Homo sapiens: one gene and its partners. The protein of the gene in region 2 purifies or fractionates together with the protein of the main gene of each other region. This does not show direct contact. Each region holds a gene or a part of one and is shown on either strand. Other genes may lie near its edges.

Region 1 (8,111 bases), on a different chromosome or scaffold from region 2:
ACCCTGAGGCCCCGCACCGCCAGGGAGGTGGAAGGCACGGAGCAGCGAAGCCCGGCCCCGGCCCCGGCCGCCCGACCAGCTCACAGAGGAACACCTGTGGGGGGGCCTGTGGGCGGTTCACAGAGGGATGTAGGAACGTGCCTGTGGGAGGCCGTAGCCCCGGAGAGCAGAGGCCTGGCCGGCGGAAGAGAAGCAAGGAAGGGGCGATTCAGGAAGGCCAGAGCCCGAGTGCCGGGGCAGGGGCCCCACCCCCTCACCCCCTCACCCCCTCACCCCCTAGGACAGAAGAGGCCCTCCGTTGGAAGGCAGGGGCCCCACCCCCAGGACAGAAGAGGCCCCACGTTGGAAGGCAGGGGCCCCACCCCCTAGGACAGAACGGGCCCTGCGTTGAGGCCCCTGGGTTCTTCCCCCGGGTTCTTGCCTGGCCCCTTCCATGGATCCTAAGCAGCTCCCTTATCGGCCACCATCTGGGAAGCCAGGAGGGGGGCATGAAATGAGGGGGAGGTGGGGCCCCCAGCCAGGGTTCCCCTCCTCAAGGCCCCAGGTATACAGTTGGCCTTTGCCCAGCCCTTCTAGCCCCTGCAGGGGCAGGACCCCACCTGGACCCCATGAATCTCTCCCAACTTTTGCCCAGCATGGTGTCCCTGACCGAAACCCCTCCACTTCAGGACCCTGGGTCCCCAGGCCCGCCCCCACCCTGAGGGTGCCTCTACACCCCTTCCCCCAGAGCCCCTTCCCCCAGCCTGAGGGCCAGGAGCAGCCTCCCTCTTCCTGCAGTCTCTACCACAGCTCTCCACTGGCCCAGGGGCCTGAACTCCTTGGGTGCAGCCGAGCTGCAGGGTGGCTGTGGGGACCTCTGCTTGGCGTTCTTTCCCGGTGGCTGAGGCCCCTGCCCTGCCCAAATGGGAGCCCGGAGTGTGTGTGTGTGGCTGTGTGTGTCCCATCTGCGTCCCTGTCACACGTCATGCCGGAGCAGGGGAGGCAGTAAGGGGCCCCACCCCACTGGATGCAGTGGGCTTCCCACCTTGCCCGGTGTCATTTCCTGATTTGCAAAATATTTCCTGGGAGCAGAGTTGTTGGCAAGCACAGCCTCAGACGGTGTGAGCAGCTGGGGGACCCCTCAGATGTGGCTCCCTCTGTCCCTCCGGCCTGTGCTGGCCTGCCCCTGCCCCCAGGCCTGTAAGCTGGGCAGGCTGTGGGGCAGGAACTCCCCAGGGTGAGTGGGCTGGTCTGAGGGCTAAGGCCCCTGCTCCCAGCTCCGCCCCACCCGCCTCTGGGAGTCCCTTGTGGTGTGTGGACATAGGTCAGTCCCTCCCTGCTGCCTCCTCCCTATCCCAGTCCAGGCCCCTGGGAGTTTTGCGTCTGCCCAGGGCTGTGGCCTGGGCCTGTCTGGACTGTGTCTGGGGAAGGGGCAGCATGTGGTCCTCCTCTCCCTTTCAGGGAAGGATGTCCCAGCAGAGAGGCAAAGTGAGGGGACCCACACAAGGAAGGGGCCCTGCTATTAGGAAACCCTGGGTCATTCAGGCCTGCTGCTCTCCGGCTCCCACCGGGCCGGGCTCTGTCCTCGCTGTGACGAACCTCCTGCCCCTGTCGAGGCCGGCAACACCCTCCACCCGGCCACCCCTCCCGAAGGCCCCCAGCCTGCTCTGCCCCTGCAGTCCTGGCGCAGGCCCCTCCTGCCCACCCCACCCTGCTCTCAGCACTCGCGGTTCCTTCTCTCTGCCTGGAAGGCTCTTCCTCGGGTACCCCTTGCGTGCGAGTCCCCAGTGACCCCCTGTTCTCACAGGGAAAACAAGTAGACCGTATCTTTCCTAGCTGTTCACCGCCCACCCTCCTAGCCTGGCAGTGCTGGCCCGGCGCCTGTGTGTCCCCAGCACTGAGGCTGGGGCGCGGCTGTGCCCAGCACACAGACGAGGGATGGATGGACAGACGCAGATGGTGCAGCTCCCACCCCTACCCAGGCTGCTACCCGCCAGGTGTCTACCCGCCACCCCAGCTGCTGCTGGCACGGGGGACTGAGGGGGGTCAGCTCTGGGGCCAGAGGGGCAGGCCTGGGCTCCTGGGAAGTGAAAAGTGACCCCCGAGGCCCCCAAGACCTGTCCTTGACCCCAGTGAGCAGGTTGAGTCTAGGAGCTGCGTGGGCCCTGCTCTCTTGGTGACCCCTGCTCTGCCCCACTTACTGTTGTGGGGTGGGCTCAGGCACACCCCAGAGCAGTGCCTCAGGCCCGCACCGCTGCCCCTCACCGCCGCTGCCCCTCACCGCCGCTGCCCCTCACCACTGCTGCCCCTCACCGCCCCGTCCATCTGCTCCTGTGTGTGCTTGAGTACGTTTGTGAGATACGTGAAAACAGCAACAAAAGGCGCCGGGTGCGGGCCTGGGCGTCCTGCCCTCAGCTCGGGTCAGGGGTGGGGTCAGAGGCCTCAGGAGTTGCCCTTTTACCCAGGGTCAAACATGACCACAGCCAGCTGGGGACAAAAGGCCCTTCATCTTCTGCAGAAGCCTGGATTGTGCGGAGGAGGGAGCATTCCCAAAGGCGGGTGGGGGCAGGGGCGGTGCCCGGGTGACAGCAGCCTCCCCAGCTTCCTGGAACTCTCTCCACCTGCCTGCAGACAGACCGGCAGGGCAGGCTGGCTCCGGGAAGTGAGGCACAGGGACTCCCACAGCCCAGGCCCAGACCGTGGGGGCGGGGTGGCCGCAGCCAAACCAGGCTGCTCCCCACCCCATGGGGCCCCAGGCCACCAGGATCAGACAGGGGCTGTGCCTGCAGGAGGCAGAGGGCTCGGGGCCAGCACCCACTGTGATCTGGCCTGACCCGTCCTTGCCTCTGCCTCTTACCCCGGGCCCTTCTCCCTGGAGAGTGGAGGGTTCCGGCTGTTATATTTGTGCTTCCTCCGGTGTCTGCCTCAAGTCCGGCCCGGGCCCTGACACTGCACCTCTGGCTGACCCCATGCTCTCTGGGACCCTCTGTCCACGTCCCTCCTCCGGGGTGGAGACAGCGGGGGGAGGGCAGGACACAAGAATGAGTCCTGAAGACTGAGGGGCACGGGGAGAGCTGATGGGGAGGGTCTCCTAGCTGGAGGGACTCCAGGCAGAGCCGGGAGCAAGGCAGGTGGCTGAGCTCGGCCCAGGCTGGGTGGAGGCCAGGCCTCCTGTGCCTTCTCCCGCTGATGGCGAGCTGAAGGGAGGAGGGCGGCCGCTTCCTTGAGGGCCTGAGTCACAGCCAAGAAGACCCGCTCACTTTTTCCAGAAGTGAGGGAAACTTCCCCGTCAGCCCTGCAAGGCTGGCTGAGGTGTGACTGTGGCCCGCCTGCTGGGCGAGGGTGGGGGACAAGCGGGCCACTGGCTGTGAGCCTCCCCAGGGTGGGGGACCCTCGGCCCAGCTCCCTGCCTGACTACCTGGACGTGCCTCCGCAGGGTCTGCAGCCAGCTTCCGGTCAGACCCCAGGTCCTCCAGCGGCTGCGGCCTTCAGCGTCATCTCCACGGCAGCCCCTGTGTACTGGGGGCTGGGGGGCCTGGCGAGGCCCCTCGAAGTGGTACAGCTTGCACTCTGGGGACCCAAAGTCCCCCCACCGGGCCCAGGCGGAAGCACCAGGCATTTCTGGTCCCAGCCGAGGTCTGAGGTCTGTGGAGCGCAGCCAGCACCTCCACTGCCAAGATCCCCGGCAGGGGGGGTGGGGGGCGCCGGCGGGGACACAGCTCTCCCTTGTTCCTGCCGCCAGCTCCTCAGCCTCAGCCTGCTGCTTCCTTTTTTAGGCAAAGTCGAGTGCTGGCCGTCCGCACGGCCCCGCGGTGTCTCACCTGCCTGAAAGGGAGGAAGGAAGCCTGTGGAGCCCCATCCGTTCTCCCGCGGCGCATCCTCCAGGAGAGGGTGGGGAAGGAGGAGACATCCTGGCAGACACCCCCCCACGTCCCCCACCTCCCAGCTCTGAGCTGAGGAGGCCCTGGAAGAGGGCCATGGCTACTCCGAGGGAGGGCCGGGGTAGGGTTCTCCTGTCCAGGGGACACTGCTGGCCCAGCCCCACCCAAGCAGGGGAAATCTGCCCTGGGAGCCACTGTCCCTCAGGACGCCCCCTGCAACCAGCCACCTCTCGTCTGGGCCTCACCAAGACCCCAAGACTCAAGAGCTCCTGTCTCACCAGTGGGACCCTCCAGTCCTGCTGGGGGTGTGTCCTGGGTCCTGGAGTCTGGGCCCCTCACTGGGTAGGGTATATGGGTAACAGGCCCAGTGTGGTCCCACTGGACAGGGCCTCAACCAACCATCTCCCACTCCCATGCCTCTTCCTCCAAGAAGCCCAGGTGGCGTGGGTGCTTCGAGTCTCTCTCGAATTCCTGTCTTCTGTCCCCTTTCAAGCCACTGTGTCCTTGTAAGTTCCACCCCATGGTCCTTCCCATCCCTGCTGGTCAGTCCCTGGGATACATGTCCTGTTACTCCAGACACCTATCCGCCTCCAGCGCGGAGGCCAAGGCGAAACCACGGTCTGGACGTGTTTTTTTGGTGCCACCGCCAGCCCCTGGGGTTCTCTTGGGCCTGGCTGCTGGGACCCCAGCACCCAGAGTCACGGCAGTGGTGGGCATGGGGAGGGCCTAGCCTGGTACCTCCCTGCTCGGCTCCCGCGGCTGGGGGTCGGAGAGGGGTGGAGAGCGTGGGCCGCACAGCCTCGGCCGGGAGAGGGAGACTGGAGTGTGTGTGTGTGCGTGCCTGCGCGTGCGTGCCTCGGTCGTATCTCGGCTGGTGCTGCGTGTCCCTGCGTGTCGGGGTCCGCTCGTGCGCGCCTCTCCGGGGTCTGTGCGCGTGGCCCTCCGCTCGCGCCGGAGGGCGTGGGCGTGGCCTCGGCGTGGGTGTGGCCGCTCGGGGAGGGGCCTCCCGGGGGCGGGGCCGGCCTGGTCCGCGCGGTGACGCGCCCTGCAGCCCCGAGCGAGCGAGCGAGCGAGCGAGTTGCCGAGCGCGCCCCGTCCCTCGCGCGCGATGCTCCCCTGGACGGCGCTCGGCCTGGCCCTGAGCTTGCGGCTGGCGCTGGCGCGGAGCGGCGCGGAGCGCGGTGAGTGCGGCGGGCGGCCGGGCCGGGGCTGGGGCTTCTGGTGACCGCTCTGCGCCGCTGCCCGCGCAAGGCCGTCGCTGTCCCCTGCTCCGGACGGGCGGGCGGGCTGGGAGGCTGCGGGAGCCGGGCGGGGGCGCGGGCGGAGCGTCCTGCTCACCTGAGGCTGGCGGCCCAGGTGCTCCAGGCGACACCGTCCGTGAGCGCCGGGGCATAGGGGCCGTCCCGGCCCGCATCTCTGCGGGATCGCGGGCCTGGACAGGAAGAGGGAGATGTCTGTCAAGGGGGCACCCCTGCCTCAGTTTCCCTACCCTTGCGAGGGCCCTTAGTGGAGGGATGGTAGGGAAGTTGGAGTCGCCCCACCGCACTGGGGAAAACCGCAAGGCCGGGACTAGAATTGAGGCACGCTGGTGCCCTGGCTTGGTGGGGAGGGGCGGTGTAGGGGGCATCAGCCTCCACCCCGGAGGTGCCCGGAGGAAGGGGGAAGCCTGCGAGGGGCTGTTCCGGCTTTCAGGCTGCTGGGGGTTATATCTTGTTGTGTGAGTCCAGGTGGGCTGGAGGATGGAGGCCAGGGGAGGGGCCACCATCTAGTAAGCGGGGTCTGGGCTCCAGCCAGGCCATCCGGCGTGGTCATTGCTGTGCCTCCGACACCTTCCCCTGCTGCTGTGTGCATGCCCAGGGTGCCTCACCTGCAGGCTGAGCTGCGTGGCTGAACTCCAGCCTCAGGCTGCTCCTCTGAAAGCCATGCCTGGAGGGAACAGCCCCACGGCTCAGGCCTGTCCTGGGGGCCTAGGCCAGGACTCTTGGCTCCACCTGCTTGCAGGGTCTGTGAGGAATGGGAAGGTGTGGGGGCTTGGAGCGGAGAGTCGCCCTCTCACAGATGGGATAACACAAGCCCAGAGAGAGCCCTAGATCCCATGGCCAGTGTGCAGTGAAACCCCCAAAAGTACAGGCCTCTTGCTTAGAGTTCCTCTTTCCCCCAACCTAGGACCTTTGGGAGAAGGCAAGCATCCACTTAAGGAAAGCTGGGGCCCTGGGGGACCCTGCCTTGCTGTGGGGCTGTCTGGGGGGCCCACACCTGAGGCTGAGCATTCCTCCTTTCCCCCAGGTCCACCAGCATCAGCCCCCCGAGGGGACCTGATGTTCCTGCTGGACAGCTCAGCCAGCGTCTCTCACTACGAGTTCTCCCGGGTTCGGGAGTTTGTGGGGCAGCTGGTGGCTCCACTGCCCCTGGGCACCGGGGCCCTGCGTGCCAGTCTGGTGCACGTGGGCAGTCGGCCATACACCGAGTTCCCCTTCGGCCAGCACAGCTCGGGTGAGGCTGCCCAGGATGCGGTGCGTGCTTCTGCCCAGCGCATGGGTGACACCCACACTGGCCTGGCGCTGGTCTATGCCAAGGAACAGCTGTTTGCTGAAGCATCAGGTGCCCGGCCAGGGGTGCCCAAAGTGCTGGTGTGGGTGACAGATGGCGGCTCCAGCGACCCTGTGGGCCCCCCCATGCAGGAGCTCAAGGACCTGGGCGTCACCGTGTTCATTGTCAGCACCGGCCGAGGCAACTTCCTGGAGCTGTCAGCCGCTGCCTCAGCCCCTGCCGAGAAGCACCTGCACTTTGTGGACGTGGATGACCTGCACATCATTGTCCAAGAGCTGAGGGGCTCCATTCTCGGTATGCGGGAGGAGGCAGGGCCCAGGGAGCCCTAGCTGGGAGCCGCAGAAGGAGAGGCTGGGTTGAGACTTTGGGAAGATCTCATGTCCCCAGAGCAGCGGCCAGGGCCTCCGGGGCTGTGGTACCCCTAGGGTGCAGGGCTGAGTGATGCAGCTTGTCTATGCACACTCTTCACTGGGCGACCCGTGTACCCTGCTGAGACGGGGGCAGGCTTGAGTAGCCACCTCCAGGTGTAGCTCCCTGCTGATGTGTCCAGCCCAGACCTCGAGGCCCCAGGGAGTGCAGAGCCCGGGTGTAGGCCCAGGAAGAAGCTTCCAAGTCTGGGGACTCTGCAGATGGGCAGCATGTGCTCCTGAGCATGCCCACCATACCTGGAGAGGGGTGAGCCAGAAAGGTCAGGGACTGCCCCCCCAGAGAGCACAGGGCACCTCTCCTGGGTGGGGACAGCCGCCGAGGGCTTTGAACTAGTTCGGACTGCAGGCCCACTGTGAGGGTTTCCTGAGAGGCCGGACCAGGGAAGGCCTGAGGCAGGAGCTGAGCAGCTCCCATTGGCTTTTTTTCTGGACCTCCCTGCCCCAGCCAAGCCCTGAAGGAGCTGGGGCTGGAGATGAGGAACCGGCCACTGGCTCAGCCTGCTGCAGCCACTGAAAAATGCCAACCCTGGGGATCTCACCAAGTCTCCGTCTGTGGGTTAATCATCCACCCAGAGCCGGAAGGGGTTGGACTGTGGGTTGGAGAGGGGTGGACGGCCCTCCCCAAGGTTTCCCCAGGGACGTCTGGCCCCTAGTGGCCCCAGGTCACCCAGTGCAGCTGCGCCTGGAGGGGACCAGGAGGAAAGGCTGCCTTAAGCAGCCAAAGGAAAAGCCTGAGGCTGCAGTGCCGAGGGGCCAGGCAGCAGGGTGGGGGCTCCTGGGAAAGAGGCCGGGTCTGAGGGTGGGGGATGGGAAGAAAGTGGCCCAGGCACCCAGCACTGCAGGAGGAAGATCCTGATAGCTTTAACCCAGCGCAGACATTTATGAGCCTCGCCACAGCAGGGTCACTCAGAGGGCTATGTGGGGCTTGGTGTCACAGGTCCAGGAGTCCCCCTCTGGAGAACCCCACCCCACACTCTCCTGGGGACCCAGGGCAGGCAGCGCCTCCAGAACCCCAGGGCCTGCCCCTGTGGTCTCCCATCTCCTAGCTGCAGCTCAGAGAGCCGGGCTGACCTCAGACCCCGGCCTGGCCACTCAGGCTGGGGCTGGTCCTCTGCTCTCAGGCACCACCGTGGACTCTGCCGTCTTTGAGGACCTTTGTCCTGGTCACTGATCTGGCCACTGCACCTCTCCACAAAGGACTGGGTTTGGGGCTAAGGGAGGCAGGGGCGCTTCTGACAGGGCCTGAGGGGGCTGCACCCTTTCCTCCGTCCTC
Region 2 (8,148 bases):
AAACAGAAGCTTTGGACAGAGGGGCAGCTTCTCACACTCAGCCCCATCCCAAACAGGACCCATAATTTCCAGCACCTCCTACCCCGCCTCTACCCCACATTTAACCTACAAGTGAATGGTGCATCCATCACCCATCTGGTGGCTAAGGCCAGAGACCCGGATGTCCCCTTGATTCCTACCTCTCTCTTCTCCCCCTCATTGAGTCAAGAGCAAGAGCTGCCAGTTCTGCCTCCCACTGGTGTCTAGATTCATCCCCTCCTGGAATCCGGAGAGACCAAGCCCCTTTGGCATTCACCTCCTCTCCCTGCCACTGGTCTAGTCTGTGCCTTGATTATGTTCTCTGTGTACTGCCCTCCTGCCAGCCTGACTTTCCCAATGAGTTTTGGGGATTATGACATTTTGACAATGTACAGGATAACATCTCATGTCCATCTCACCAAGGTCCTTCCTGCTCTGCCCTTGGTTTCCCCTCCATTCTCACCTCTCACTTCCCTTCCCTGCCCCTTTGCAGACTCACCACCCCTCATGCCCCAGAACGCTTTTCAAACCCTTTAGAAATGGGCTGTTTTCTCTTCAGGAAGGCCTTCCCCTGCTGTACACCTGGCAACCTCCAAGTCATCCTACAAACTCTGATCAGGTGACAGCCCCAATCCCCTCTCTCTAACCTGCAGCCTTGGCGGCTCCTTCTCCTGAATGTGCTCACAGTAGGTTTTATAGGCCATCATTGCAGCAATTGTGCATAATGGCTAGTTTGTCTGTGCTTCTCTCCTCCACATTTGCTTACAAGCACTTCGACGCCCAGAGCATAAGGTTTCATCTTTGTACCTGCCAGTTATCTAAACTGGGGCCTGGTACACAGTAGCCATTCAAATGTTTGTTGCATGAATAAATGAATGAAGTCAAGGTGTTGATACAAGGATCAAATCCAGACCAACTTCACCGTCACTTTTTCTCACTACTAGGCTGAACTGTCACAATGAAGGCATTAACTGGAAGCTGCATGACCACACCTTATAAAGTTTTCCAAATCCCAAAACCTCTCCCTGCCTCCTCTCCAGTGACAATGTGGCTGCCACTCAGGGCTCCAGGATAAATCAGTCTCCAAGTGCCTCAAAGCAATACAATAGACTGAACTCATCAATGGCCCCTATTGTTAAGTCCTAACTGAGAAGAGAAAGTACTCTGCAAGATAAAAGGTAATTGTTTGGAGGTGACTTTGAAGTTCAAAGGTCTTTTTATCAGAGCAGGCAAATGGTGCACCTACACAATAGGTATAATTTATCCTCATATTCCAATGAAACACTTTGGCCTTTGGAGGCCCCCAGGAGCACAGGGATGGCTGTGTTCTCTTTCATGTGGCAGAACATGAAGATCCTCCACCCCCAGGAATCAGGTTCAGGGAGATCTGAGACCTGGTGCCCAATAGGCAGGACTGCTGGTTTCTTCCCCAGCCCTGCCTCCATCTGGGACCAGGCTGCCTGCTGGGTCCTCTGTGCAAGGACCACCAGATACCTCCGCACAGTGCCCAAGTGTTTCCTCAGGGGACCCGGGGAGGGTGTACTAAAATGCGCCGAAGTTTTGTTTCCCGGGTTTGGTTCCTGACTCAACTGCCTTTAACAGCCCAAGTCAAAATCCTCCACCACCAAGAGAACCCTCCAGCTTTTTGCCCCCCAAACAAATCAGTTGCCAAAGAACTGAGTGCTTCTGCAGACATCTGCTGCCAACAGAAACGTTTCAGGCGAACCGTTTCCATTCCTGCTCCCTCGTGTTTCCAATCGGAAACTGCGTGTCCCTTTTCAACCGGATTTTTGTATCCCTACACTAGATTTTATTTTATTTTTATTTTTATTATTTTTGAGATGGAGTCTCACTCTAGCCCCGGCTGGAGTGCAGTGGCGCAATCTCGGCCCACTGCTACCTCCGCCTCCCGGGTTCAAGCGATTCCCCTGCCTCAGCCTCCCAAGTAGCTGGGATTACAGGCGTGTGCCACGACGCCCGGCTAATTTTTGTATTTTTAGTAGAGACGGGATTTCGCCGTTTGGTCAGGCTGGTCTCGAACTCCTGACCTCAGGTGATCTCCCCACCCCTCCCCCCGCCTCGGCCTCCCAAAGTGCTGGGATTACAGGCGTGAGTCACCGCGCCCAGACTCCTTACGATAGATTTACAGGGCGATTAGGCAAAAGGCAAGACCACTGCGGCCGAGACCAGGAAGCAAGCCTGTCGCTCGCCTGCCCCTTCATCTTTTATCCATTTATGTTCATCCCTGAGATTTTCTTAGCGAGTGTCTCAAGCCCTTCTCCCCGGGAGTGGGGGATCAGAGAGAAACTGCGAGAGAGTGGGGAGGAACTCATGGCACTAACAGGCCACTGTGGACAAACTCTTCTTTTGTGCACTCTCCCCTCCCTTCTGATGCAACCTGGGGGAGGGGGCGGGCCCTCGCCGTCCTGGCTCCCGCGGCCGCTGCCACGTTCTCGCCTCCCCGCGAGAAACCACCCCGGCCGGGGCGCGGCGGCGGCGATCTCCAAGCTGGGGTCCCGGGGCCCTCCAGCAAGTTAGCCTGAGCCCCAGCGCCGAGTTGGGCAGGGCCCCATCCTCGAGGCCGCGCGCGCGATTTCGCTTTCGCTTTGGCGGTGGTATCCCGCGTGGCTCTCGCCCAGGCGGCCCTCGGACACCTGCGCCGCCCCCCACGGGGCCCTGGCCGCGGCCTCACCCTAGCCTCTCCTTGCTCTCGTCCGGGGTGAGCTGGTCGAAGGTCTTGGAGTCCTCCTTGCCCAGGAAGGCCTCGTGGTCGTACTGGAAGCTCTGGTTGTCCTCAGGGGGCCGCTCGCCCAGCTCCGAGTCGGGCCGCACCACGCGCTCTTTGCGCACCGTGGGCTTGGCCCGCAGAACCCGCGGCGCCAGCACCAGCGCCAGCAGCAGCCCCAGGGCTAACCCCAGGCGGCGGCCGCGGCCACCGCGCGCCATCGTCCCGAGGAGAGGGCGGCCGAGAGGGAGACGCTGAGCGAGCGACAACAGCGGCAGCTCGGGAATGGGGACTCGGAGCGCGGCGGCAGCGACAGGGTTGGGGCCGGCGCGGAGGAGGGGACTGGCCAGTCCCTCCGCCAGTGCCCGCCCCGAGCCGGAGCAGAGGGGCGCGCCTGGGCCTCGGGCTGGGAAGCTGCGGGCGGCCCCGCTCGCGCGCCCATTGGTCGCTGAGCTGCCGGGGGAAGCCGGGGCCGCGGAGCCACGTCGCCAGCTGGGGTGGTGGGCGCGGGGCTCGTGTTTCGCCTCGGCCCCTCCCCGCGATCTTGTTGCTAGGGGCGGGCCCGGGCGAACTGGGCTAGGGACTGGAGGGCTCGGAGGAGGATTGGGAAGTTCTTTGTCAAGCAACAGATGTGCAGGATAAAATTCCCTCTGACTTCCTACAGTTCCGGGAAAACTGTAAGGAAGGAGACGTTGCCCTTCCTCAACTTCCAACTGAGACCCCGAATCTCAGCCCTAGACCCTGCTCTAAGATGTGCTCTCAAACCCAATTCAACCCCATTTAGTAAAATTTGGAGTCTGGTTACAAACGCGAGCCTGGAAGGAGACCAAGACGGGCGAAGTCCCCTAGAAACGAGGGTCGTACTGTCAGTCGTCAAGGAGGGTCAAGCGGGGAACTTCTATATGACCAAGAGTCCCTCTAAAGGGAGCGGTACTGTGCGTTCCAGCTGCCAGGGGAACGCAGGCCCCACGCTGATAGATAGTCCTGTTTCCCAAATGAAATCAATCAGGATTTTAGATTTTTATGTTTTATTTCTAAATGTTGGTAACTCATTTTACAAAAGCACTAGTTGGATCCAATCTTACCTGTATTCAGTTGGTAATGCTACCAATACAGATATCTGTCCCATCAAACTTTCTGCAATGATGGAAATGCCCTCTATCTGGTCTGGCCTGTAGGTAGTGGCTGTTGAGCACTTGATGTGTAGCTTAGTGTAAGTGAGGCACTGAAATTTTAATTTAAATCTAAACTTAAAGAGCCACACGGGACTAATGGCTACCGTATTGGACGGTGAGGTCTCGAGCAGTCTCAGCCTTTTGACACTCATTGAAAGCCATGATCCTCTTCCAGAAAAATGCACATACAGCTACTGACACGGGTGCTTGATTAAAGAGTCGGAGGATTCATGGATCTTTTGAAGCCCCACCTATGAGCCCCAGGTTAAGAATCCCTAGAAGGCCGGGCACGGTGGCTCATGCCTGTAATCCCGGCACTTTGGGAGGCGGAGCCAGGTAGATCACTTGAGGTCAGGAGTTCGAGACCAGCTTGGCCAACATGGTGAAACACCGTCTCTACTAAAAATACAAAAATTAGCTGGGCGAGGTGGCGGGCGCCTGTAATCTCAGCTAGTCGGAGGCTGGGGTAGGAGAATCGCTTGAACCTGGGAGGCGAAGGTTGCAGTGAGCCGAGATCATGCCATTGCACTTCAACCTGGGAAACGAGAGAAACTCCATAAAAAAAAAAAAAAACCCTAGAAAACTGAAACGATAGTTGAAGAGGGAAACCCACCATGACAGCTAAATATCTGTACTCCTAGAAATTTCCTCCATCTTGCCTTGCCTCCCACCTCCATCCCTGATGTTTTCAAAAAGGTCTGGGATGTGCTTCTTGCCCTTGCAATAAAGATGTCGTCGCAACATAGACGCAAGTCCCTTTCTTGGGACGCCCTCTTTCAATCAATTAATAAATCATTACTGTCTTACTACTACAGCCTAAGCACTGGACTGGGTGCTGAGGGTACAATGGAGAACAAGATAATCATGGTGTCTGCAGAGCTATAGTGTATATGAACAGATGTTCATTCGTTCGTTCGTTCCATAAACTGAGCACCTGCTAAGTGTCAGGCTGTGCTGGATTCTGGCTAACTGAGATCCATGGATCACAAGTCAGCATGACAAGTGCTCACAGAGAAAGGCATGTAGTGGTCTGGGGGTACTGAACCGATCCAGACATGGGAATCAATCAGGGAAGGCCTCCCAGAGGAAGACACATTTAAATTGAGACTGAAGGTGAGTAAGATAAGCTAGATGGAAGGATGTAGTTATGTGAGAGAAGGATAAGATCCTGTACGAGCTAGCAGAGGACAGCTCCACATTTGAGGCAATGTCTTTGTGACCCCACTGGCTGGCAGTGAGAGCTGGGAAGCCAGTCCTTGGATCCCCGCTTCTCTTCCTAGTCCCCTTCTTTTCCTTGGATCCCCCCCTTCCCACCAGCTGACTTTGCATGGCACAAGAAGTACTGTGCCTGAGACCAGACATGCTTCCCCCAGCCAGCCTAGAGATCTGAATTTCTAGCAATAGAGGAGCATTACCTTGGGGGTGTAAGAGCTCCCTGCTGAAATGCAAGTGTCCTAAGGTAGGCGGTTTAGTACCTTCTGTGCTCATCAGGCAAGCAGGATATGAATTGTTGAGTGAGTGAGGGAGGAGAAGGAGGAGTGGGAGGAGGAACAGGGAGAAAAAGATTGGGGCTAGAAAAAGAAGGGGACTAGGAAGGGAACGGGAAAGCGAGTGGAGACTGGTGACAGTTTTTGCATATTCACAACTTTGGCCACAGGCTGGCCTGGGTCCCTGGGATTGGTCCAGACTCTCCAAAAAGGCATATCTTTTGCCCTTGTTATAGTTGGCTTCCTGCCAGACACTGGTGGTTTCCAACAGTTAGATTGTTTCAGAGGTAGTCTTGGCTCCTGTGGGAATTACCAGAGAATTCTAGCACTGCTGTGAATCCGGAAGAATTTACATAATTTCCCCTGGGCTTGCCTACACTCTTTTCCTTTATATTTATTTTCATCCCTCCACCCTACCATAAGAGTTCAAGTCCTCCCAATCAAAGGTTCAGGAAGGATGATGGGACAGAATAGTCAAGGTATTGCACTGTGTAATTGCTTTCTTTCATTTTCAAAGCTGTTTTGCATCTCCCCCCCATGTGCATGTTTGGGAAGAGTGACTAAGTGCATTGTCATGCCTTAGGTCTTAGGTTAACCTCCATTCTTGATGAAGCAGAGGAACAAGAACAAGATAAGTAACATTTAGCAGAGGGTTGATTCAGTGAAAAGGAAAAGCGAGTTTCAAATGGGTAAACTGATCAGCTTAGGGTATGCTGGTCTCCCGCATCTGGCCAAAAGTAACACCATCAACTACAACAAAAATCCAACCAGAAGTTACTGAAACAAGAAGAAAACTTTACCATCTCATGCAACAAGAAGTCATGAGTTATATTGGTTTCAGATTGGTTAATTTCAGTGGTTTCAGGACATCATCAAGGAATCAGGTTTTTTTGTTTTTGTTTTTGTTTCTCCCTCAGAAACAGTAGGGGAAAGGAATGTTCTCTCCCTTTCTTTGAAAAATAAACTTTCCCAGCAGACTGTCCCTCATATCTCATTGGCCAGAATTGTGTCATGTGCCTATGCTGGATCCAGTGACAGGCATGGGGAATAGAAATTCCATGATTGATTTCAACCAATCAAGACTCACTGGTAGGAGCTGGAAAGTACTGTATGTAGCATCCTCTGAAGCACATGATTAGGGTTCTGTGGGCGAGGAAGAACAAGCCAAATAGCTGTGTCTGCCACATGTTTAAAAGCACTTTCAGCATCTCTACCTCCCTCCTGCTTCTCCACCATTCAAAATTACATGAACTTTTCAGGTCCCAACTCAAATGTCACCTTCTCCATGAAGTTTTCCCTTATACCTTAAATCAGAATTAATTATTTCTTCATCAATATGCCCAGAGCCTTTGTATCTCACATACTTCTCACAGTCAGCTTTGTATTAATTTTTCTTCCCTTCTAATTCTGAATTCCTTGAGAGAAATGATCACAGCCGATTCATGTCCATGTTCGTAAATCCAGGGCCTACCATATTTACTGCCTTCTGGCAGAAGTTGATCGCCATAAGACAGATTTGCTGTGAGACCAGGACCATATTCTTTTGGCTCACCACTGTATACTCAACCTAGTATAGTGCCTGGCTCATAGTAGGTGCCCCTAAAATATCTTGAATGAATGATAAAATAACAATAGCTACCAACTTCTGCTTCTGGTCAAGATGGAGTGAAGGAGGGACTGGATTTATCCTCCCATTTGAAACAAACAAACAAAATATATGAAGCAACAGTTTTCAAGACACTGGACACCAGGCAATGAACAACATTGGAAACAAACTAGGTGAGTCCCAGGATTACCCCAGAATTACCTTGGCAGAGTTGCCAGGTCACTGTGCAGAGAGGGAGAACTAAGATGGATCCTGGCAGACTCCTGAAGTTGAAAAGACAGAAGTGAGTGTCCAGAGAGACCAAGTCAGCCGTGGTTCTAAAGAGAGAGTACTGGAGAGAAGATGGCTGCACAGAGAGAGAATCCCAAAGCTCCACAGAGGATCCCCTTGGCCATTCAGCAAAGTGGTGAACAGTGCATGCGTGTAGGCTGAGGACTGAGCCATCTGAAAGGATTAGAAGGAACAGTGGGTGCCAGGCATGGTACCTGTTCCCATCAGTCAGACTGGAAAAACTCATCATTCATGGGGCACTGGGTACTTAGTAAGGTCTTGCCTCAGTGGTGGGGAATAATTAACCCTAGACTGAGCACTGCTCCAGAAAGTGCCTCTCAAAGCACAAAGGCAAGACCTGAAAAGCTCAAGAAAACATACAAGAATTAAAAAAAAAAAAAATTTGGCACCCAACAAGGTGAAATTCACAATTTGCATTATCCAATCAAAGACACAGCAAGGCAGGAAAACACAGCGAGGAGAATAATCGGTCTGTAAAAACTGACCCAGAACTGACACAGATATTAGACTTAACAGAGAGGAACATTAAAACAATTATTGTAATTGTGTTAAATGTTTTAAAAGTTCAGAAGAGCCAGAGAAAATACAAAAAAGACACAAATTGAAAGCCTAGATAGCAAAACTTTGAAATCTGGGATGAAAAATACACCATATAAGATTAACAGAAGGTTAGATATTGCAGAAGACAATATCTTTTTACTAATTAAATACTTTATTGAATAAATACAATAGCAAAGAATGCATTCAAATGCTTTCTAAAAAATTAATTTTAAAGGTCTTTCTATTCAGACTAATGATAAACGCAGTAAAGGCAGATGTGCTAGTTTAACATAATTGGCTTATTTC
Region 3 (7,317 bases), on a different chromosome or scaffold from region 2:
CCTACTGAGGCATCAAGTACTCAGAGTGCTCAACAGATATTAATGATAATAATGTCAAGCTTCCCTTCTTCATGCAAGTTTCAAAGCAAGTCTTATGAAAATAAACATCATCCAGAATTTATGGATGTTTACCTCTGAAAAGCACAAAAAGGTATATAAATGGTATGTGAACCATACAGTGAAAAACTATAAATAGCCTGACATCAAAATCTAACAGGAAAAAAAAAAATCAAAAGAAAAGGAAGAGGAAGAGGAAGCCAGAAGAAAAACACTAAACTCAATATAGGCAGGCAAAATTATACAAAGAGGCGGTAAGGAACTACGTGGTCTGTTGCTTCCCACAGTCATGGAGGATGCGGGTGTGGCCGGGTGGGGAAGTCTCCCTGGGACTCACCTCCATCAGAGCCATAGCTGGGGCATGCCTGAGCCCCACGCCCCCTACACCCCTAAAGCAATTTTCTTACACCATGAAAGCAGCCTGAGCAACTGTGGTATGACCCAAACGACTGAGTAGCTTTCTCCCTACTCCCTGCAGCATGGCTGCATTGCTGTTGGCAAGATGGATCATGGCCACAAAATGAAGAAAACTTGTATGAAAACAGACTAGTTTGGGGCACCTTATAACCAAAAGCTAATAACCTTTCTTACACTTTTTCCCCAAATCTATCTTTCTAAAATTACTACCCATAAATTTCTACAGGTCGAGTATCACTTATCCAAAAGCATTTCAGATTTAAGATTCTTTGGATTTTGGAATATTTGCACTATACTTAACAGCTAAGCATCCCAAATCTGAAAATCCGAAATCCAAAATGCTCCAATAAGCATTTCCTTTGAGTATCATGCCATCACTCCAAGAGTTGCAAATTTTGGAATATTTTAGATTTCAGAATGTCTGGTTAGGGGTACTCAACCTATAGTACATTCTTCTACCCAAAATCTAGCACCAATCCCAATTTGAAATGATAGCATTTGCTTTCTGCCCAAAGCCCAATGGGGCCAGTATTATCACTGTATCCAAAACTTAAGATGAATGATAACATGGTCAATGACTACACCTCAGATTTCAGAAAACCGTTTTCTAACAAGACAATACATGAAGATTTATCCTACCCGAAGTCTTCTGTGGAGTGTCTTTATTTCTCTTTCCATGTCGTGCTTTTGGTCCTGGAGTTTTTTAACTGTATCTGAAAAGATCACCAAAGTTTAAATATCTATTCTCACAACAATCTTCAGAGTAATAATACAAAGAAAAGGGATACTTAAATATGACATTCGAAAAAAGTTATCCTGTCCAAAGACTATAAAAAATTTTAATACAAAACTTTAACAGAAAAAATGTTAAATTCAAGTAATAACAAATATTACTTTCTTTGGAAAATATCAAGTTAAAAATCACAATTTCTAAATCACTTCCTTCCACAGTATCTTAATTTTGAAACAAAAAGTAAAACCGTTAGAAATTCACTTTGTTGGTACATAACCAATCAAAACAATATTGACTGTGACTACAATATGAACTTTTAATCACAAGTATTATTAATCTGCAGTATTTATATAAGCATAGCTTTCCTTACACACTGGAATAAATTCCAGAAAAGAAGTGAATTAGTAAAATCAAAATTAGTAAAAAATATAATACTCAGGGTAGCTGCTGTTTCAATTAATTCTATAAAAATCTTTTTAAAAAATAAAGAATATATTTATAAAGTAAATCAATAATTCCTCAAATTATTTATCCGATAATGTGAATTTTCTTAGAACAATTTCATTCACTCTAAAAACATTCAATGAGCACCACCAATAAGATGCAAAGTACCATTCTAGATAGAGTGAGGATACAAGGATGAAAGTGTAGCACAGGCTAGTCTCCCTGGAACCAGAAACGTAAAGGGAAGTCACCTTCTCTTTGGAGGTTCTACTCTAAAATCCATGCATAAGAGATAAATGACTTAGGAGGGTGCTATGCTGATAGCTGCCACTAAGTAAACCGCTTACGGCTGTGTTACTTTGACAGCTCAGGAACCAATCACTTTTTGGTTAAGGGCAAGAAAGGGTACTTACACAACTGGTGGCAAATCCTTTACCCTGATTTACCTACAGCCCCACCCCAGTAGATCCCTGGCTGTTGTGTGTGTTCCAAGTGTGTCTTACACAGCCTTGTACCATGTTGCCGCCAATATTACCACATCTCGACACATCTGTCTCGACCACTAGACTAAAAACACTTCAAAGGCAGAAGAAGCCATGTGATGACCTCACAGACTCAGTAGTTGGAATATGGTATCTTTAAAATGGAATAAATTTATAAATGTGCCAGCTAATGGTAGCAGTAATAAAAAGTAATGCTGAAATCGTTACCTAGGTTTTTGTTTTTTTTTTAATAAGTATCCTATTGACAGAACTTAACGATTTATCATTAGGGAAAACATAACTATAGACATTAGTGTTTCTGGGTAAATAACATTCTCTCCCATTCCTTATACTTAGTAGCAGGAATTCAGGCATAGTGAACACCTGCTTGCAATGACACATGTAATCAAAAAATTCTTCCTCTAGCTAACACTTTATTGGCTTTTAATTAGGACCCTAAAGTATGAGTATGCTGATGTTCTTTCTTTCTTAGATGGCTCATCATCTTCTTTACCCCTGTTCCACTAGAACCTTCTCTTCTAAAATTTTTTTGCCATTATGCTTTACATTTGATGTTGGTATATGTGTGTTCTGATGTTTTTTTTTTTTTTTTTTTTTTTTTGAGACGGAGTCTCAATCTGTTGCCCAGGCTGGAGTGCAGTGGCATGATTTCAGCTCACTGCAACCTCTGCCCCCTGGGTTCAAGCGATTCTCCTGCCTCAGCCTCCTGTGGAGATGGGATTATAGGCGCCTGCCACCACGTCCAGCTAATTTTTGTATTTTTAGTACAGACGGGGTTTCACCATGTTGGCCAGGCTGGTCTTGAACTCCTGACCTCATGATCCACCCGCCTCGGCCTCCCAAAGTGCTAGGATTACAAGCATGAGCCACTGCACCCAGCCAGTGTTCTGGTATTTTTAAATGGCATGAATTCACTTTAACAACATAGAGCCTAGAATATTTACAACAATTATATGTGGAATAATAATTATTACAAATAAATAATAATGCTGTATTTTCTAAAGCTGGATCAGAAATAAATGGGATAAAACGTTGGCGGCAGGGGCAATTCTGGTAGGCAGTAGTTAACTTGCTCTCATTCACTGCCCCAAAACTGTGTAACAAAGTCAGGTCCTGTGAAATAAAAAGGTTCAAAATTTACTCTTTAATTTGATAAATGTGTCATATGTACCAACTTTGTACCAGGCTTTTTTCTAAGTGCTTAAGATGTAAAGGAAAGGAAAGATATAATCTTCATCCTCTTAGAGACAGAAAGGCTAGTCTTGTGTTGAGACAACAAGGGTAGATGACTTCATAAGCAAAAGATTAAACTTTAAAGCCTGTCTCACACATAAGGTACTTCAGACTCAACCTGCAAACGAAGAGTCAAACAGGCCATCTAATCTGGTTTGGGTAAAGCAGACACCAAGCTGAGTAGACGAGTCTAATGCCCTGATCCTTATCTCTGGAGGCAAGGATGGCTCTGGAATCAGCAAGGGAACTTGGTTCCTTGCGACCTCACACATAGACAAATTCAGGGTTTTGGACATAAGACGAGGAGTAAGGACAGAAGCTGAAAAATTTCTAATGTTGAAAACACTGGGAGTTACACCTTTCATTTACATTGTATCAATTTATATGCAAGAAATATTTCATAATCAAAACAGGCGGTCAGGCGTGGTGGCACAGGCCTGTAATATCTGCTGATCACCTGAGGTCAGGAGTTCGAGACCAGCCTGGCCAACGTGGTGAAACCCTGTCTCTACTAAAAATAAAAAATTAGCCGGGTGTGGTAGTGGGCGCCTGTAATTCCAGCTACACAGGAGGCTGAAGCAGGAGAATCGCTTGAACCCGGGGGGCAGAGGTTGCAGTGAGCCAAGATGGTACCACTGCACTCTAGCCTGGGCACCAAGAATGAAACTCCATCCCAAAAAAGCAAACAAACAGCAAAAAACAGGCAAGCAAACAAAAAATGTTAGGAGTGTAATTTCTCTTGAAATTTGCTGAAAATTGTTTTCTTTTTCTTGTCACAAAGGACATGACACATCTACTTACTGTTAAACATAATACACACATGACAAATGACAGCAAATCTCAGGACAGCTCACTTTTAACATTTGGCATTTTGATTCTCAGGTGACATTTTAAGCTACCTGGTCATCTTAGACTGATCATAAATTCTCAAGTTGCATTCATTCCTTTGCTCTTTTTCTCTTTATTGACCTTTTTTCATTCATGGCCACAGAATTCACATAATCACTGTTCTTTAAAAGGTGTTTTTCTGCCCCCGGCACTACATTTTTATTACTGTCACCTCTTATAAATAAATAAATAAATAAATAAATAAATAAATAAATAAATCCATTTAAGTAAAAGGGAAAGTGGCAGCCAGTGGAAATACTCAGACAGAATAAAATGCACTAAAAGTGTCTGTAGGGATTTGATTTAAACTTTACAATCTCTACAGTCATGACTACGTTTTTACTCTGAAATGGAATGTATTTTTTTTTCCTGGAAACAAAGGAATTTGTGCTTAAGTTCTTGTTGTGAAGACTAGTTTGCAAAACTGCCATCTAGCACGATTTGTGGTCACACAAGAAAGCAGCATTACTCTTCAACTCTCGAACCTCTAACAGCAGTTTCCTTCCTCTTCAGTGTTCCTACTGTGAGGGACACTGCCATCTACTGTCTTCAACTCAAAAGCAACATTCAAGTCGACCAAGGAAAAGAACTACTACTATGATCTTCCTATTTTTAAATTACAAATTATAACTCAATTTTTACAATGTTATTTTTATTCTAGAGATCAGGCAAACTGCTGTTCTCAATGTTATTAGACCAACTTTGTTCTGAACAACTCTGGGCACTGCCCTACTCATTTAATAATGGGTTCATAACTTTTGAGTCCCATTATTGATTATGAACCCCATTATTCTCTGACAAAAAATAATCCATTCTCGCTCTGGTTATATCTCCATCAATCATGCTGATATTGCCAGGCAGTTACCATGGACACAGGATCAATCTGTGACTTTTTCTTTTCTGTTTTGAAATAAAGTCTCACTCTGTCACCCAGGCTTGACTGCACTGGCACAATCTCAGCTCACTGCAGCCTCCGTCTCCTGGGTTCAAGCGATCCTCCCACCTCAGCCTTCCAAGTAGCTGGGATTACAGGCACCTGGCACCACACCCAGCTAATTTTTGTATTTTTAGTAGATACGGGGTTTTACCATGTTGGCCAGGCTGGTCTCAAACTCCTCAACTCAAGTGATCTGCCTGCCTTGGCCTCCCAAGGTGCTGGGATTACAGGTGTGAGCCACTGTGCCCAGCCTGGTTCGGTTTTGAACTCCCAAAGTGCTGGAATTACAGGCATGAGCCACCGTGCCCAGCCCTATTTTATTACTAAATGCAAATTATCCCCGCATGTTTAAAAGAGTAGGACAAAAAAGAATGAAAAGTTCTTATCACTTACTCTCTAGATCAGAAATAATGAGGTTGTCATGAAGTTTCACAGCACGATGTTGTTCTACTTCATCTTCAAGTTCAAAGATGGTTTCTTTCATGTCACTCCTTTCTGTTTCTTTTTCATCCAGGTCTGATCTTAATTTTTCTAACGTCATATTCAAATCTTCAATTTGTTTCTTAGCTTCTTCTTGGAAGGCTCGGTATTCATCCTCTACCTACGTAAAATTGACGATGCAGATTTAGAAAAGTTAAGAGTTGTTCTAAGGTACGTTCCAGAATTGAGGTACACACAGTTTCCAAGGGGAGCTAAGTATGAGGCACTATGGATAAACTAAAACAACCTGTGTAATAACTGTTAAAAAGTATGAAAAAGCACTCCATGGTAAGATTTTATCTAATACACTTAAACTGTTGCTGTAACACTGACTGAAATTATATTGATGTATCATTGAACTTAACCTGATTATTTACAAGGAAACTTTGGAAATTTTCGTTTCTCCTAACTTTGGACTGAAAGCATGTACGTTTGTTTAATGATTAACATGTTGTCCTAACAAAAATGATGTCATATTTGTGACGGTTCCAGTATCAAACTGAAAAAGGGAAAACAATTCTCAAATAGTGTTTTTACAAAAGTATTAGTTCACAGTAGCCTCTCAACATGTATGTGCCAAGAACTAATACAAATCTCCTAAACTGTAACTTTAAAAGTGATCACTAAAAACACCCTAAAATCTAAATTACTCAAATTTTAGCCAAAGATATATGAAAATTTATTTTAAAATCATTGCACTAAAATAACAAATAAATAAAATGTAAGCTAGAATAACTAGTATAACTAGAATAACTCATGGAAATAAACAGTTCATCAGCAACCACATGGGGTATAGATAGATCCCTGGCCAGAATGCCAGTGGCCCTGGGTAGCAGTTCCAACTGAGTCCTCACTATTATGCTGGAGGCATGTACAACAAGGGTCTGGACTGATAATTGCTAAGGTCCCTGCCAGCAATAAATCACAGGCCTCTGAGAAACAGGAGCCTCTATATGCCAAAAATATTTTTTAACTATCAACAGATCTCTATTTGAAAAACTATTACTATAGCAAGATAAGAGGAAACATGCACTGCTGATGCTACAGACTGGAATACTGACTCTCCACCTATTACACCAAAACAGATTCGAGATGAGGCGGGGGGAGGTAAAATTTCATGACCCGCTCCATAGGAATACTCAGAACTAGGGACAAATTCTGGTTTTAGCTGTAATACCAGCCATATCCTCTCACAGGCAGGAAAACAGAAACAAAATACAAGTGAGAGAAAGTGACATTATCTTAAGAATACTTTTCACACTATTCCAATAAAAGGAAACCATTCCCAAGTTTTAAAAATATCAGTTTTAAAAAAAAGCTAATAACACACCAAACCAAACCAGTAACCCAGGTTCTCAGTAAACACTGTGCATGGCAGCTGCCTAATGCTGTCCGGAACATTTTAATCTATTTAAACAATACCTTAGCAATGGCATCCTGTAATCGATTGGCATCATTTCGGGTATGAGCCAGATCTTCCTGCAAGCTACTAGCCAAAGTCTCTGCTTTTTCTTTGTCCAGCCTGACACTCTCCAGGAGGTCCTGAATATCAGATTTGTCTCCAGAGTTATGGATAGAATACAGCTCTGCCACTTTCTGCTTTTCATTCTCCAGCTGAGCCTTCA

What was found. The genes of interacting proteins can lie anywhere in the genome.
Region 1: the proteins of RCN1 (region 2) and VWA1 purify together in Homo sapiens (affinity purification with mass spectrometry; 3 studies listed by BioGRID and IntAct, with this or other methods). This does not show direct contact.
Region 3: the proteins of RCN1 (region 2) and SPECC1L purify together in Homo sapiens (affinity purification with mass spectrometry; 3 studies listed by BioGRID and IntAct, with this or other methods). This does not show direct contact.

Annotation. Positions count from the first base shown.
Region 1 is NC_000001.11:1,430,781-1,438,891, forward strand, and holds the start of VWA1 (von Willebrand factor A domain-containing protein 1 isoform 1 precursor), read left to right. Parts: upstream 1-4,909; 5' UTR 4,910-4,968; coding exon 4,969-5,041; intron 5,042-6,146; coding exon 6,147-6,704; intron 6,705-8,111. Other genes in the region: uncharacterized protein LOC107985729, read left to right, coding at 2,453-2,508, 3,183-3,291, 3,416-3,622, 3,756-4,370. UniProt on the Homo sapiens protein: Promotes matrix assembly. Involved in the organization of skeletal muscles and in the formation of neuromuscular junctions.
Region 2 is NC_000011.10:32,086,013-32,094,160, reverse strand, and holds the start of RCN1 (reticulocalbin-1 precursor), read right to left. Parts: upstream 3,088-8,148; 5' UTR 2,965-3,087; coding exon 2,711-2,964; intron 1-2,710. UniProt on the Homo sapiens protein: May regulate calcium-dependent activities in the endoplasmic reticulum lumen or post-ER compartment.
Region 3 is NC_000022.11:24,322,716-24,330,032, reverse strand, and holds part of SPECC1L (cytospin-A), read right to left. Parts: coding exon 7,115-7,317; intron 5,814-7,114; coding exon 5,606-5,813; intron 1,188-5,605; coding exon 1,114-1,187; intron 1-1,113. UniProt on the Homo sapiens protein: Involved in cytokinesis and spindle organization. May play a role in actin cytoskeleton organization and microtubule stabilization and hence required for proper cell adhesion and migration.